Regions from separate parts of the Homo sapiens genome. Here region 1 is linked to region 2. The links come from fine-mapping of genetic effects on gene expression. A gene starts in region 2. The other region holds a variant in brackets. All regions are shown on one strand. Distances are from middle to middle. Region 1 overlaps ATP6V0A2 (ATPase H+ transporting V0 subunit a2). Region 2 holds the start of DDX55 (DEAD-box helicase 55).

The links. PIP is the estimated chance that this variant, and not a neighbour inherited with it, causes the effect.
Region 1: its variant is fine-mapped to the expression of DDX55 in spinal cord (GTEx, PIP 0.90).

The regions. Positions count from the first base shown.
Region 1 is chr12:123,713,386-123,721,385 of GRCh38, forward strand. It overlaps ATP6V0A2 (ATPase H+ transporting V0 subunit a2), which reads left to right. Exons shown (of 20, transcript NM_012463.4): 2 at 5,238-5,316. It overlaps LOC105370042 (a long non-coding RNA gene), which reads right to left. Exons shown (of 3, transcript XR_945477.4): 2 at 2,115-2,178; 3 at 1-1,349. It also overlaps the pseudogene RPL27P12. Among named protein-coding and RNA genes, the nearest start is that of ATP6V0A2, 5.0 kb to the left of the region's middle. The variant G/A (reference allele first, on the strand shown) is at 3,592.
Region 2 is chr12:123,597,260-123,605,985 of GRCh38, forward strand. DDX55 (DEAD-box helicase 55) reads left to right here and starts at 4,840. Exons shown (of 14, transcript NM_020936.3): 1 at 4,840-4,997; 2 at 8,672-8,722. The coding sequence starts at 4,890. It overlaps TMED2 (transmembrane p24 trafficking protein 2), which reads left to right. Exons shown (of 4, transcript NM_006815.4): 4 at 1-1,323. RefSeq lists a silencer at 5,202-5,311 and an enhancer at 5,552-5,601.

The DNA of each region.
Region 1 (8,000 bases), 120 kb after region 2:
CCCCAACAAGTAATAATAAACATTTGTTTGTCCATTTACTTGTTTATTGTTTGTCTCCACCAAGGACTGTCAACCTCTGAGAGTAAGTACCTTAACGCAGTCCTTGGCAGTCATTGGCATCGATAGGCATTTGTTGAATGAACAGACAAGCTTTTCTTGACTGCCCGCTATGTTCAGGCACTGTTTTTGGTGCTGGAGACTCGGTGGTGAGCAAGGCAGACACAGTCCCTGTGTTCCTGGAGCTTCCAGTGTGGGAGGAGACAGATTAAACACACTCTGATTATGAGCTGTGATAAGTGCTAAGAAGGCAAAGAACAGGGTGTGGAAGGGAGACCGTGAAGCAAGTACTTACTGACTGAATTGAAATCCACTCAGGCGAACATTTTATTTCCTGGCCACCACTTTCATCTCCTGACTGTTTCCCTTAATCTTCCTAAGGTGTCCTTAATTTCAAAAGGGATCAGCCCTACCCGAGATCTGATATCCATTGATATCAGATATCTAATACCAGATCAGCCCCATAAGGCAGTTGCAAAGTCATGGAGAGACTCCTGAGTGACAGGCGAGGGTGCAGGTAAGATGCAGGGCGGTTCCTGGTTCCTGGAGCCACTTCTGCAGTTGTACCCATTCACCTGATGGATGCTGCGCTGAGCTGTGAATAGCACCCAAAACATTCAGGCAACAGCTGCAGGTGCAGCAGGCTCCTACATTTGTAACAGGTAGATGTTTTCCTTCCGGTTAGTACTCAAGCCAAGACACTTATCACACTTCAGTCTTACAGGTTTGAGCAAACGTACTAATCACTATGAAGGTTCCAGTTTCAATAAGCGCCACTACCTCCAGTCATAGAGTGTACCTGGGATCCTTTTCAACTGAATGTCAGTGAAAGGAGAAGAAAGTGCTGTTCATCTTTTTCCAGAAGGAAGTAAAACTAAGGTTGCTGCGATGAGCTCTTGTGTGGTGCTAGGTTTTCAGTGTGTCTTCAGCCTGAGTTTCCTACTGACTTTGTGGTGACCAGATGGGATCACTGTTAGTAACCCTTGCAAGGGAAAGGGGGGCAGGTGGTGACTTCCGTGGTGACAGCTAGTGGGAAGTACCTGGAAAAGAAAGGTCATTCAGCTGATGGGGAGGACTCCCTGAAGGGAAAGTTCGCACTTTTGTTACAGTTCTCAGTCTAAGAACAGGTTTCCTCTTTAGTCCTTCAGCTGAAGTGGGAGTATCAATGGCTGTGAATATCAAAACAAACAGCACCAGATCTCCTCTGCCGGTTTTACTAGGTTAAATGTGCCTTGAATTGAATCTACATTAAAATGTACCTTATTCCATTAGCCTTGAATTAGGGTGCTGCCCTAAAAGGGAAAAAAAACCCAAAATTTATAAAAGAAACCACACAATAGAAAAAAAAAGTTAATATGTCTGGGCACGGTGGTTCACGTCTGTAATCCCAGCACTTTCGGAGGCCAAGGCGGGCAGATCACAAGGCCAAGAGTTCGAGACCATCCTGGCCAACATGGTGAAACCCTGTCTCTACTAAAAATACAAAAATTAGCTGGGCATGGCGGGGTGTGCCTGTAGTCCTAGCTACTCTCAGAAGGCTGAGGCAGGAGAATCACTTGAACCCAGGAGGCAGAGGTTGCAGTGAGCTGAGATCGCGCCACTGCACTCCAGCCTGGCAACAGAGCGAGACTCCGTCTCAAAAAAAAGTTAATATATGTAAGCTGGTGATGGTGGTGTATGTATGTGAAATCCATGTTTGTATTATTGCCACAGAAATTTACCTCTTTATAAATAAAGATTCTACTATTTGTAGAAACATCATGCCCATTTAGAGTTAAGTACTATTTGATATTGAAGGAAGAAAATGAAAGCTGAGAAGTAGTATCCTGTGACAGCTTTAGACACAGAACTTCCTTTCCAACAAGTTCCATAGAACTAGATTGTGTCTGAATCATTAGTAACTTGGAAGTGGTTACTTTTAGTTCGACCTCCAGAAATGAATGAGAAGGTGACAAACAGAAGTGAAATGAGAATTTTTACCTTTTTTCTGGTTCTTTTAAAAAAAAAGTCCCCAAAAAATGAACAAGAACTGAGTCAGACACTGAGTAGACACTTACCAGGTTGAGCAGTTTCATGTCAAGTTGTATCTTAACTGTTTCTTGAGAGTGCCCAGTACAAATCCTGGATGGAATAAAGATAAATTTCGTGTCTTAAATGGCTTTCAACATGAATGATATACTGTAAATTGTTGAAGTATGAAAGTGATAGATGACCATTGTGAGAAATGTGGAAAACATAAGAATAGTAACATACCTTGCATGATCCCAACGCCTAGAAATTAACTTTAACTTTTTGGCTAATACTGGACAATCAGCATTTCTCTAATAATGTTTAAAAATGTCCATATATATGTATTTTTATATAATTTGAACCACACTGAAAACATCCTAATCTGCTTTACACAGAAATCATGACTAACTTCCTAATTTTATTAAATATTCTTTTACAACTTTTTAAAATTGTTTTAAACTTTATATTATAAGTAGAGGGAAGAGTACAGTGTACCCCCATGTACCCATAAATGTAAACTTAGTTTTTTCTCACTTCCCAGACTAGATCATTTTGAAGCAAATCCAAGATATATAATTTAACTTTTCAACAAGTACCTCTAAAAGATGAATTTTTTTTCTTTTTTTTTTTTGAGATGGAGTCTCAATTCTGTCGCCCAGGATGGAGTGCAGTGGCGCGATCTCAGCTCATTGCAACCTCTGCCTCCCAGGTTCAAGTGATTCTCATGCCTCAGCCTCCTGAGCAGCTGAGATCACAGGCGCGCGCCACCACGCCTGGCTAATTTTTGTATTTTTAGTAGAGACGGGGTTTCACCATGTTGGCCAGGCTGGTCTCCAACTCCTGACCTCAAGTCATCCCCCCACCTTGGCCCCCCAGAGTGCTGGGATTACAAGCATGAGCCACCAGGCCTGGCCTAGAAGATAAAAAATTATTACCAACATTGTACCTGAAAATTTAAATAACATTTCTTAATATAATCAAATACCTGGTCATTTTTACACAACTTTATTGAGGTGTATGGTAGAGTTTACCCATGATTTTTAGAAAGTTTATGGAGGCCGGGTGCAGTGGCTCACACCTGTAATCCCGGCACTTTGGGAGGCTGAGGCAGCCACATCACTTGAGCCCACCAGTTTGAGACCAGCCTGAACAACATGGCGAAACCCCATCTCTACCCAAAATACAAAAATTAGCCGGGTGTGGTGGCACGTGCCTTTAATCCCAGCTACTCAGGAGGCTGAGGCAGGAGGATCGCTTGAACCTGGGAGGCAGAGGTTGCAGTGAGCTGAGATTGCGCCACTGGACTTCAGCCTAGGCGACAGTGAGATCCTGTCTCAAAAAAAAAAAAAAAGAGTTTATAGAGTCATGCATCCATTGCCACAATTGTTTTAGAACATTCCATCACCCCAGAAGATTCTTAATGCTCATTTACAGTTAATCCTTATTCCTACCCCCACCCCCCCAGCACCCACTAATCTGCTTGCTGCCTCTAGGGTTGTCTGGACATTCCATGTAAGTGGAATC[G/A]CACAGTATGTGGCTTCTTGTGTCTGGCTGCTTTCACTTAGTATGAAAGTCATCCAGGGTGGGCGTGGTGGCTCACGCCTGTAATCCTAGCATTTTGGGAGGCCGAGGTGGGCGAATCATCTGAGGTCAGGAGTTTGAGACCAGCCTGGCCAACATGGTGAAACCCCATCTCTACTAAAAATACAAAAATTAGCCGGGGGTGGTGGCACTTGGCTGTAATCCCAGCTACTCGGGAGGCTGAGGCAGGAGAATCGCTTGAACCTGGAAGGCGAAGGTTGCAGTGAGCCAAGATACTGCCAGTACGTTCCAGCCTGGGCAACAGAGCGAAACTCTGTCTCAAAAAAAAAAAAAAAAAAAAAAGAGAAAGTCATCCCTGTTGTTGCATGGGTCAGTAGTTCATTCCTTTTTATTGCTAAGTAGCATTCCATTGTGTGGATATAGACTGTAATTTCTTTTCTTTTCTTTCTTTCTTTTTTTTTTTTTTTTGAGACAGGCTCTTGCTTTGTCACCCAGGCTAGAGTGCAGTGGTGTGATCACTGCTCACTGCAATCTCGATCTCCTGGGCTCAAGCAATCCTCCTGCCACAGCCTTCTGAGCAACTGGGACCACAGGCGTGCACCACCAGGCCTGGCTAATTTTTTATTTTTTGGAGAGATGGTGTCTTACCATGTTGCCCAGGCTGGCCTCAAACTACTGGCCTCAGGTAGTCCTCCCACCTCAGCCTCCCAAATTGCTGGGATTATCAACACGAGCTGCTGTGCCTGGCTATAATTTCTTTAACTACGCTACTGTAATTTCTTGAACTAGTTTTCTATTGTTGGATTTTTGGGTTATCATTTTTTCTTTTTCCCTGAGATTGATGTTGTCATAGATTTTCATCTGTTTCCATAGCTTTTTCCTTAGGTTAAATTTTCTTCATGGGGTATTGCTGGGCAAATAATCATTTTCAGGATTTTTTCTTTTTTTGACCCAGGGTCTCACTGTGTCACCTGGGCTGGATTGCAGTGGTGTGATCTCAGCTCCATCCAACCTCTGCCTCTCGGGCTCAAGCAATTCTCGTGCCTCAGCCTTCCAAGTAGCTGGAATTACTTAGGTGCGCCACCATGCCTGGCTAATTTTTTTTTTTTTTTTGAGATAGTGTCTTGCCCTGTTGCCCAGGTTGGAGTGCAAATGGCACGATCTTGGCTCACTGCAACCTCCGCCTCCTGGGTTCAAGCAATTTTTCCACCTCAGCCTCCCGAGTAGCTGGGATTACAGGTACTTGCCATCATGCTTGGCTAATTTTTGTGTTTTCGTAGAGGTGGGATTTCACCATGTTGGCCAGGCTGGTCTTGAACTCCCGACCTCAAGTGATCTGCCCGCCTCATCCTCCCAAAGTGCTGGGATTACAGGCGTGAGCTACCGCCCCGGCCTAATTTTTGTATTTTTAGCAGGGTTGGGGTTTCACCGTGTTGGCCCGGCTGGATTTTCAGGCTTTTTTGGTAACAGTTGACAAATTGCTCTCAAGAAAAGTTGTGTCAGTTTATAGTTTCATTCAATAGTATACAAGAGTGTACATCCCCCAAACTTTGGTGATGTTTTATTTTTTACATAAAAGTATTTTTAAATTTTAGAAATTTAAACCATATTTTTCATCCTTTTCTCAGCTCAACCAGAACGTAAGTTCTTTCCAAAGAAAATTTGTTGGTGAGGTGAAGAGGTGTGAAGAGCTAGAGCGAATATTGGGTAAGTTTATTTTCTGATTTAACAACTTAAATAATTACCTTTATATAGGCAAACCTTGTTCGGTTTAAAAATATTGGAAAATATAGACAAGCAGAAAGGAAAAAAAGAAATTGTATTCTCATTCAGAAGTAATCACAGTTATGTAGGCATGTATTATTTTTCTGTATTTTTTTATTCATCTATAAAAGTAAAAATTTACAAACATAATGGCCTGGTTATTTTGTTGTTACCCTTGTTTTTTACTTAACAGTGCTTACTATAACATCTTTTCGTGTCAGTAGACATAGATATTTACCCATCATCGTTTTTGATGGCAGCATACTATTTGATTGTATTAATATTAATGTGCTGTGGCTTATTTAACCGATCCCTTGTAGTTTATTATAACTTAAAAACATTGTACTTGTTAATAAGTTACTTAATTTAAAATTTTTTCAAGGAACAAGGGAGGCGGGAAATGGAAGATAGAGTGATTGACAATAATTTCCTTTTTCTCAGGGCTTCCTTTGCCAGTGTGTTAGATCAGTGCTGATTGTTAACCATTTCAACTAAGCAGCCCAGGGCCACTTCTTTTATCTCTAAAGTCTTTACCATCTTAGTCTGGTACTAGTCATTATCAAATCAAGCCTTGACATTCTCACTGAAGTGGAGGGAAAATGACAGACAGTCAACTGAAGGACAAAGCTTGTTTTTTTTTTTTTTTGAGATGGAGTCTTGCTTTGTCACCTAGGCTGGAGTGCAGTGGCATGATCTTGGCTCACTGCAGACTCCGCCTCCTGGGTTCCAGCGATTCTCCTGCTTCAGCCGCCCTAGTAGCTGGGACTATAGGTGCGTGCCACCACACCTGGCTAATTTTTGTACTTTTAGTAGAGATGGGGTTTTACCATGTTGGCCAGGCTGGTCTTGAACTCCTTGTTAGGGACAAACCGCCCCAAAAAAGCTTCTTGGTACTGCCAACACTTCCCCCAAAGCTCTCCGTGCTGCCTACCCCTCCCCCTGAGCCCCTTTAACATTTCTAAGCCCTTATCTAGGTGCCCCAGTGAAGCCAGCAAACTTCACTTATCAGGCCTTCCTGCGATAAGCAAAACACAATTATAAACCATCCGGACCACACAGGGGGAGGTTGTGGGAAGCCTAAACAAACTTTGCCTACGGCCTCCTGTAAGTTCCTTCATTTAGCTGCTACTGTAAAGGTCACAAGGTGATACATGGCAAAGTTAACCAACAAACGACCCCAGGGTCTCTCTCCCCCGTATAAACCCCTCATTTTGTAAGTTCAGGGCTGCCTCCTCTGTCGTGGAGCAGCCGGCAGGTTCAATAAACTTACTCACCTGACTTTGGGTCTATTCTTCCTTTCTCTCGGCTGACCTTACACTCCTGACCTCAGGTGATCCACTGGCTTCGGCCTCCCAAAGGTCTGGGATTACAGATGTGAGCCACCACACCCGGCCTATTTTTTTTAAATTGGGGATTTTTAAGTGTAACAGGAAATTTTAGTCATTTGAAATCTAGTCCTATTCATATTGCTTGAGGTCCTAGTTATTTGTGTGGTTCATGTACGTTAGTGGCACCATATTCCTGTCTTTGCAACCTGGGTGAGTCATTGGATAGATGGTGTATTCAGAATAAGGTTTTTAAAGGCAGGGCAAATGTGATAACACATTAGGTATATCCAGGACTTCCTGTAGCTTAAACTGTTTCAAAAGAATGCAGGGCTGGGCACGATGGCTCACGCCTATAATTCCAGCACTTTGGGAGGCCAAGGTGGGAGGATCACTTGAGTCCAGGAGTTTGAGAGCAGTCTGGGCAACATACTGAGACCCTGTCTCCACAAAAAATAAAATTAGCCAGGCATGGTGACATGTGCCTGTAGTCTTAGCTACTCAGGAGGCTGAGGTGGGAGAATTGCTTGAGCCCAGGAGTTTGAGGTTATTGTGGGCCAGGATGACACACCACTGTACTCCAGCCTGGGCAGCAGGGTATGACCCCATAAGAATGCAGACTTAAAACAGTGAAAAAGGACCTCTCAAGGAAATTTAGGTGTACGCCAGGCATGGTGGTGCACATACCTATAGTCTCAGTTACTCTGAAGGTAGAGGCAGGAGGCTTTCTTGAGCCCAGGAGTTCAAGGCTAGCGTGGGCAACATAGTGAGACCCCTGTCTCTTAAAAAAAAAAAGAATAAATTGAAGTATAAATTGGTTAAAACAATTTGCGTTCATTTCTAGAAACCTCTTAGACCCAGTGCTTCCTTTGCTATCTTGGTAAGACAGTTTCTTTTCTTTTTCTTTTTGTTTTTCCTCCTTACTTCTTTACCTGCCTCTCTCCCTCTGTAAACCAGTTAGTAACACTTCTAAATATTAGGCCTGATAATGACTAACAGATATTGTGACTTTTAGCCTAAGGAAAGGGATGCTTCATGGAATCGAAAACATAAACCAAATAAAGTAGTTAGTTTTGGCTGGTGTACTATTAGTTTCATGAATCTAGGTGTTTTGTTTTGTTTTGTTTTGTTTTGTTTTAATGACTGAAACAAAAAACATCTAAAACCACAGCTTCTGGAAGAACCACTTGTTCTTGCCAGTCTTGTTCCACTCTTTGAACTTGATCTTGGCCTCCCACTGGGCCTTGCATTTAAGAGCAGGGTCTCTGAAAACCTGGTGGTTTTGTCTAAGGGGATGGTCAC
Region 2 (8,726 bases):
TACTTTGTTTTCTTGTTTTGCTTTAAAACTACGACTCAGCATACATTTTCCCACATACATTTTTACATTGTACCTTAGGACTCAGTCATCTCCACTTAAATTGATGACACAAGCAGCTAATAACCATTTCTGGGTTTCTGCCTAACCCCCTAATTGTCTGTTAAAGCCAATTCTCTGGGTGTCCCAGTGAGTGGTGGCTTTTTTTCTTTCCACATTGGCACATTCACTTCTCCCACTCTTGGCATGTAAGAAATAAGCATTTACATAATTGGAAAAATCTGGATTTCTGATGCCAAAGGGTTAAAGCTTCTTGGATTTCATTTCATTGATATACAGCCACTATTTTATTTTTGATCAGTGGCCTTTGGGCCACTGTTCAGGGTACTGACCATCAGTGTCAGCATTAGGGTTTTGGTTTTTGTTTCTTTTGGGTCTTTCTTTTTTGGCACATGTGAATCTTGTTTTGTGTAAAATGAAATTACTTTCTCTTGTTCTCTGATGATGGGTTTAAAATTAAAAGAGCATCCGGTTTTGGTATGGGGATGATCCAGGATTATGTTGTGACTGATACATATTAGTTACTTGTGCTTTTTTTTTTTTTTTTGGATCTTTGCAAGGGCAAAACTACAAGTAACGAGTTTTATATAATTAATTTAAATTTGTTACAGGTTTTCATGTTCAGGATAAACCATACTTCCACCTTGGGTGAGAACACTTGCAACAGTTTATTAATGAGGTGACTTTCACCTTAGGACAACTGTTGCATGCCAAGTTTTTTGTGTGTGTGAAACACTTCAAAACTGATTTAAAAGATGTAAATTTAAAATTGGTTGTATCTAATATGCCCCAGGTTCGGTAAATAAACAATTCTTTTTAAAAACAGTATTCTGTGTTTTATATATTGACAGCTAATCCACATTTTTTACACACCAACTTTCTGTTCTTATTTGACATGAGACATGTTCATGTTTTCTGAGTATTTATACCTATTACGTCTGTTACTTTTTAATTCTATAAACTTGAGGATAGTGAATGGTACCAAGTTTTAGTTTCTGCGTAGGTTTTCCAGTGTGGCTTCTCTGATGGATCAGTGCTAAAATCTTAAGTATTTTTCTATTTGGGAAAAAAGGGTTGAATTATTTTCACTTGCCCACGTAGTTTATGAATGTGGGAAATAGCTTCAAAGACAGATTAAATGATTTGCCCAAGGCCACAGAAAAGAGTGAAAGGTGGAACCGGAGACTAGATCACCACCTGTAGAAACTGTTCTTCCTCTGTGAAACTAACGGCCTGCTGGTAATAAAAGTAGCTACCATTTCTTGAGTACTGTGTAATGTCTCGATCTAGTACTAAGCACTTTACTTGGTCTGTCTTATTCATGCTTCAAAACTGCCATTACCTTGGGTAAAACCATTTTGGAAGTGAGGAGGAAAACAGGCTTGGAAAGGGTCTTAAGGTCAGAAAACTAGTAGGTAGTAGAGCCCAGAAGACACACACAGATATGTAATTTCCCTGTGCCTTTGCTTTCAGAACTGTCTGTGAAGTCTCCCACCTTTTCTTTTTTTGGAGACAGGATCTCACTCTGTTCCCAGGTTGGCTTGATCTCTGCTCACTGAAGCCTCAACCTCCCGGGCTCAAGTGATCCTACCACCTCAGCTCTCCAAGTAGCTGGGACTACATTTTTTGTTTTTTAAAGACAGGGTCTTGCTTTGTTACCTGGACTGGAGTGCAGTGGCACAAACATGGCTCACTGGAGCCTTAACCTCTCAAGTGATCCTCTCATCTCAGCCTCCCGAGTAGCTGGGACCACAGGCATGCACCACCACGCCTAGCTAATTAAAAAATTATTTTTGTAGAGGCAGAGTCTCCTGTATGTTGCCCAGGCTGGCCTCATTCTCCTGGGCTCAAGTGATCCTCCTGCCTCAGCCTCCCAAAGTGTTGGGATTGCAGACATGAGCCACCGTGCCTAGCCGAAGTCCCATTTTATAAAAGTTGTCAAAGGTGTTTTGAGAATGTGATGATCATTTCACTGAAAATGTGGCTTCAGGCTGTTGTCTTTTACTTAATTTGAGATGACTGCAGTCTGCATGAGTTGTATTCCCATTTATCAATCCCACAAATATTTGAGTGATTGCTGTGTGCTACAGTGATAGTCCTTGGGATAAAGAAGATAGAGAAAAGACCCTATTAGTGTGGGTTTTACATTTTGGTGGCAGAGATGAACCTAATAAGTTTTGTGTGTGTGTGTGTGTGTTTGTGTGTGTGTGGCGAGAAAGAGATAATGGTAAATGCTAAGAAGGGAACATAAATCAAGGTAGGAGTTTCAGTGATACAGAAAGGAAGGTAACAGAAGTTGATTTCAAAAGTCCAAGTGGAATGTAAGGGAGTGTAAGGGAAAACTTCCCCTTTGCTCTCAGGTTTCTCTAAAAATTCAACTGAAAATAGGCAGATTAATAGGAGGAAAGTGATACAAATTTATTCGGTCATGCTTTTACATGACAAAGGAACCTTCAGAATTAAGACCCAAAGTTACAGGGAAAACTATTTTTATGCTTAGGCTCAACAAAATATGCACAGCTGAGTAGAAATAGGACTGGACAAGAAGGGCATGATCTAATGCTCATAGACTGAGTGGGGAAGCCCAGCGAGGCCTGTCTGGATTCTTTCCTTCTGGATAGGGGAAAGAACCCTTCCTGGAATGGGGTCTTACAACCTACCAGCAAAACAAAGGAGGTCAGATACATTTTTTTTTTTTTTGGAGACAGTCTCTCTCTGTCACCCAGGGTGGAGTGCGGTGGCGCGATCTTGGCTCACTGCAGCCTCCGCCTCCCGGGTTCAAGCAATTCTCCTGCCTCAGCCTCCCAAGTAGCTGGGAATACAGGCGCACGCTGCCACATCTGGCTAATTTTTTTTTGTATTTTTAGTAGAGACGGGATTTCACCGTCTGGTCTCGAACTCCTGAGCTCAGGCAATCTGCCCGCCTTGGCCTCCAAAAGTGCTAGGATTACAGGTGTGAGCCACCACGTCTGGCCTTTTTTTGTTTGTTTGTTTGTTTGTTTGTTTGTTTTTTGAGACTGAGTCTCACTCTGTCGCCCAGGCTGGAATGCAATGGTGCGATCTAGGATTACTGCAGCCTCCACTTCTCAGGTTCAAGCGATGCTTGTAGCTCAGCCTCCGGAGTAGCTGCAGGCACCTGCCACCACACCTGGCTAATTTTTTGTATTTTTAGTAGACAGGGTTTCACTACGTTGGCCAGGCTGGTCTCAAACTCCTTACCTTAGGTGATCCGCCTGCCTCAGCCTCCCAAAGTGCTGGGATTACAGGCATGAGCCACCGCACCTAGCCCAGATAATTTCTTTTTCTTTTTTTTTTTGAGACTGAGTCTCGCTTTGTCACCCACGCTGGAGTGCAGTGGCGCAACCTCCACCTCCCTGGTTCAAGCGATTCTTCTGCCTCAGGCTCCTGAGTAGCTGGGACTACAGGCATGCGCCACCACGCCTGGCTAATTTCTGTATTTTTAGTAGAGACGGGGTTTCACCATATTGGCCAGGCTGGTCTCGAACTCCTGACCTTGAGATCTGCCCGCTTTGGCCTCCCAAAGTGGTGAGATTACAGGCGTGAGCCACCGTGCCAGGCCAATAATTTCTTTATGGCCAGTTTTTTCACAGAAAGGTGGAGAGAGAGTAATATTTTTAGGTTTTATGGCTGACTGTGGAGAAAAGGGATTCCTGTTTCTATGCTCCGTCATGGGCAAGAGGGATTCTTGAGTTTCTATGGCTAGCCTCAGAGAATCAGAGATCAGAGAGGGAGCAGAAGGTCAGAGAGAAACTTGCTTCTGAGGCTGCCTCTGGGGCCTTCATTTTGGGGTTTCGTTTTCAGAGCCTCAACAGGAGCAAGCCATGCACATAGGTGGAGGAGATAGGCCCTCATAGAGGGCACATAATGAGTGGTCAATAAAAGTTTGCTGAGTGAAGGCCGGGCGCGGTGGCTCACGCCTGTAATCCCAGCACTTTGGGAGGCCGAGGCGGGCGGATCACGAGGTCAGGAAATCGAGACCATCCTGGCTAACACGGTGAAACCCCGTCTCTACTAAAAATACAAAAAATTAGCCGGGCGTGGTGGAGGGCGCCTGCAGTCCCAGGTACTCGGGAGGCTGAGGCAGGAGAAGGGCGTGAACCCGGGAGGCGGAGCTTGCAGTGAACCGTTATAGCGCCCAGCCTCCAGCCTGGGCAACAGAGCGAGACTCCGTCTCAAACAACAACAACAACAACAACAACAACAAAAACAGCTTTCTGAGTGAAGTTGTATGTGGACATGAATGGCCCAGGCAAACAGTGAACAGAGGAATGGGACAGTGTTCTTAGTTAGGACTCTGACCCTAACTTCCGGGAAAGTAAACCAACATTCAGGACGTACCGGCCATCGGACCGCAACATTCAGGACGTACCGGCCATCAGCGGGTGCCTGTTTTGCAGGGCTGCTAACCCGGGTCCCCGACACGTTTCTCTGCCCACGGTAGCCAGCCCCGCTGTCCTTCGGCCTGGACGCGGTCCTGTGCTGCCACCTGCCTCCGAGGGGCAGAGAAAGTGGGAGGGCCGGGCCAGAATCCCTCCCGCCAAAACTCCTGCCCGGTGCGGAGAGGCGCCCGGAGCCCAGGGCGCTGTGCGGAGCGGGTGTAACTCCCCAGGCCTGCCCCGCCGCCTGCCTCCACCGTCCCGCGGACGCCTTTCCTCCCTCCCGCGGCGTGGGAGCCTTCGCCGCGCTCCGGAACTCTGCTGCTCCAGCGAAGTTCCCGGCCGGCCGCTGGAGCTGCGGGAAGCGGAAGTGCTCGTTGGGGGTGCACAAGGCGCGTTCGAGCAGCGGCGACCGACGCGGCGAAGGAGCGCGCCATGGAGCATGTGACAGAGGGCTCCTGGGAGTCGCTGCCTGTGCCGCTGCACCCGCAGGTGCTGGGCGCGCTGCGGGAGCTGGGCTTCCCGTACATGACGCCGGTGCAGGTATCGGTTCCCTGGCGTGGGGGAGTGAGGCTGGGAGAGGGGCAGGCACCCGCTGCATCGGACCCACAGGAGGTGATCGGACAGATCTGAGCCCTGGGGCGCTCATCCCTCCAGCTGGGGCTCTTGCCTTGTCTCCAGCTGCCCAGACTGGCGGAATGCGGAGCTGCCCGGCCAGCGAGCCGGCAGAGGGGCCGCGACCCACCCCGCCCTCGGGTGCTGTGGTCTCAAGCCTGGTTCTCATCCTGGCCCTGCTCGCTGTAGCTGTGAGACCTCGGGCAAATGGCTTAACCTCTCCGTGCTTCATTTTCCTTCTCTGTGAAATGACGAAAAAATAACACCCTCCTTATGGGGTTGCTGTGGGGACTAAATAAACCAGTCGGCACACTATGGGAGCTCAGTAAGGGTTACCGTTGTTATGCATCTCTTCAAGAATATTTCTTGAGGACCTGCTATGTGTCAGGAACTCTTCTAGGCTCTGGGGAGTTTGCAGTATTGGCATCTGCTCATAGCCTTACTTTCTAGTGCAAGAGCTAGAGAAAGGATAATTTCAGCTGCTGGTAAGTGTTATGAAAGAACTAAGACGGTTGTGATAGTGTCGCGCGAGGACTGCAGAGGAGGTGAGATAGGGTGTTAAGGAAGGCCTCTCTGAGGAGGTGCATTGAGCTGAGACCTCAGTGATTGAGAAGGAGCTGGCTCTGAGGTGACTAGGGGGAGATTATTCCACTGGAGAGAAATACCAGTGCACATAAATGCCCTGCGGCAGGCTGCAAATAGTTTGAGCAGCAGAAAGGAGGCCTTTGTGGCTGAACATCAAGAGTAGTGTAAGAGATGGATTGTGCAGGGTCTTGTAGGCGCTTGGATTTCATTCTAAATGTAGTGGGAAGCCATCTTATCTGGGAGGATGTTTAGGAAGGGAAGGGCTGTGATTTCTCTGTAGAGAGTGGCCTTTCCAGGCATAAGAGATGAAGCAGGCAGGTCGCTTAGGAGGCCATTGTCAGGTAAGAGATGATGGTGACTTGGAGTAGGGTGGAACCAGTGGATACTGAGAAGTCACATTTGGGATAGCTTTAAGGTTGCTAAGGGACTGGAAGTGGAGGTTAGGAAAGAAAAGACTACAGGACCTGAGGTTTTTATTCTTTTTTTTTTTTTTTTTGAGATGGAGTCTCGCTCTGTTGCCCAGGCTGGAGTGCAGTGGCGCGATCTCGGCTCACTGCAACCTCCGCCTCCTGGGTTCAAGCAATTCTCTGCCTGAACCTCCCAAGTAGCTGAGATCACAGGTGCCTGCCACCATGCCCGGCTAATTTTTTGTATTTTTAGTAGATACGGGGTTTCACCATCTCGGCCAGGTTGGTCTTGAACTCCTGACCTCCTGATCCACCCGCCTTGGCCTCCCAAAGTGCTGGGATTACAGGCTGAGCTACCGCACCCGGCTGATTTTTATTAGTAGCTGAGTGAATGGTGTTACCATTTCCCAAGAATGACTGGCGTGCGTATCAGGTTTCAGAGGGAAAGTCAAGAGTTCTTTTTTTTGTTTTTTGTTTGTTTGTTTGTTTTTAACTTTTTTGAGACGGAATCTTTCTCTGTTGCCCAGGTTGGAGTGCAATGACACGATCTCGGCTCACTGCAACTTCTGCCTCCCGGGTTCAAGCTATTCTCCCATCTCAGCCTTCCAAGTAGCTGGGGTTACAGGCATACACCACCACGCCTGGCTAATTTTTGTGTTTTTAGTAGAGACGGGATTTCGCCATGTTGGCCAGACTGGTCTTGAACTCCTGACCTCAGGTACGCCCGCCTTGGCCTCCCAAAGTGCTGGGATTACAGGAGTGAGCCACTGCGCCTGACCACAAGAGTCCTGTTTTTAAACACTGAGCTGGGTACAGTGGCACCCGCCTGTAGTACCATTTGTTTGGAAGGCTGAGGTGGGAGGATCCCTTGAGCCCAGGAGTTCAAGACCAGCCTGAGCAACATAGTGAGACCCGCATCTTCGAAATTAAAATAAATAATGGCCGGGCACGGTGGCTCACGCCTGTAATCCTAGCACTTTTGGAGACCAAGGTGGGAGGATCACTTGAGATCAGGAGTTCAAGACCAGCCTGGGCAACATAGGGAGGCCCTGTCATCACAAAAATTTTTTTTAAATAAATGAAGTCTTGAGTTTGAGATGCCCATAAGATTCCCGGGAATGTGGAGAATGTATTTCCAGCAGGCAGGGCTGGAGATGAAAACTGGGAGTGCTATGTGCCCTGCCTAGGGAATGTAGTGCGAGCAAGACCCAATCTCTGGCCTCAGAGCTCATTGTCTAGACCTGTCATCCACTACACAGTCATCAGACATGGCTATCAAGTGCTTGAAATACACTTTGTCCAAATCAAAGTGTACTCTGAGTATCAAATAACACACTAGATTTTGAAGACCTAGTATGAAAAAAGAATGGAAAATGCTGATTTTTAAATATTGACTAAATGTGAAGGGACAATATTTTTGATATATTGGGTTAAATAAAATATTAAAATTTATTTCACCCATTTCTTTTTACTTTTCTTACTATGGCTATTAGAAAATTTAAAATTGTTTATGTGGTTCACATTTTATTTCTATTGGACAGCAATGGCCTGAAGCAGGGTCCTCACTGTTGGCACTATTGACATTTTGTGCTGGAAAATTTTTTGTTATGGGGCTGTCCTGGGCATTGTAGGATGTTTAACAACATCACTGGAATCTGTCCATCAGAGGACATCACCTCCCAACCCTGGTTGTATTTTATTTATTTATTTATTTATTGAGGCAGGGTTTTGCTCTGTTACCCGGGCTGGAGTGCAGTGGCACAGTCACAGCTCACAGTAGCCTCGACCTCCCTGGGCCTAGGTGATCCTCTTACCTTAGCCTCCTGAGTAGCTGGGACTGCAGGCATGCACCACCACACCCACATAATTAAAAAAATTTTCTTTGTAGAGACAGAGTCTCCCTGTGTTGCCTGGCTGGTCTGGAATTCCTGGCCTTAAGGGATCTACCCACCTGGGCCTCCCAAAGTGCTGTGATTATAGATGTGAGCCACCACGCCTGGCCCACCCTGGGTTTTGACAACCAAAAATGTCTCCTTACATTGTCAAATGTTCCCTCAGGGGTTGAGCAGGGGGATAGCAATCACTGTGTAGAGGCAGTTAGAATAATATTACACCTGCTGTGATTTAAGTGAGCTCAGGCCCTGGGGACCAGGGCTGAATCCTGGAGGGAGCAGCCTCCAGGCCAAGGCCTGAATCTAATTGAGGTTTTTTTTGATTGCTAAAACCAGGTTTCTTTTAAAGTCTGGCAACCTCTACAGTGCTTAAAATGAGAGGGTTTATTTGAATCATGATTCTGTGATACTAGAGCTGGAAGGGACCCTAAAACCCAATGTCTTCAACGCCTTCCTGGTTCAGAGAGGAAAGTAGGAGCGACAGGGCTAGAATTCAGGACTCCCACCTCCCAGCTCAGCTCACTGTCCCCACACGCCGTCCACATAGACACAGTTGCCACGTTTGATTCAACTTCTCTATGGTGACTTGGTTACTCAGAGCCCCTTTTGTGGTGGGACCCACTGTGACCTTAGCTGCCCATTATGTTCCTAGGGCTTCGGGTCTCACCTGTGAATTGATGGCATCCTTTAACCAGTGCTTTGCAATCTCTCTCTTTAGTCCGCAACCATCCCTCTGTTCATGCGAAACAAAGATGTCGCTGCAGAAGCGGTGA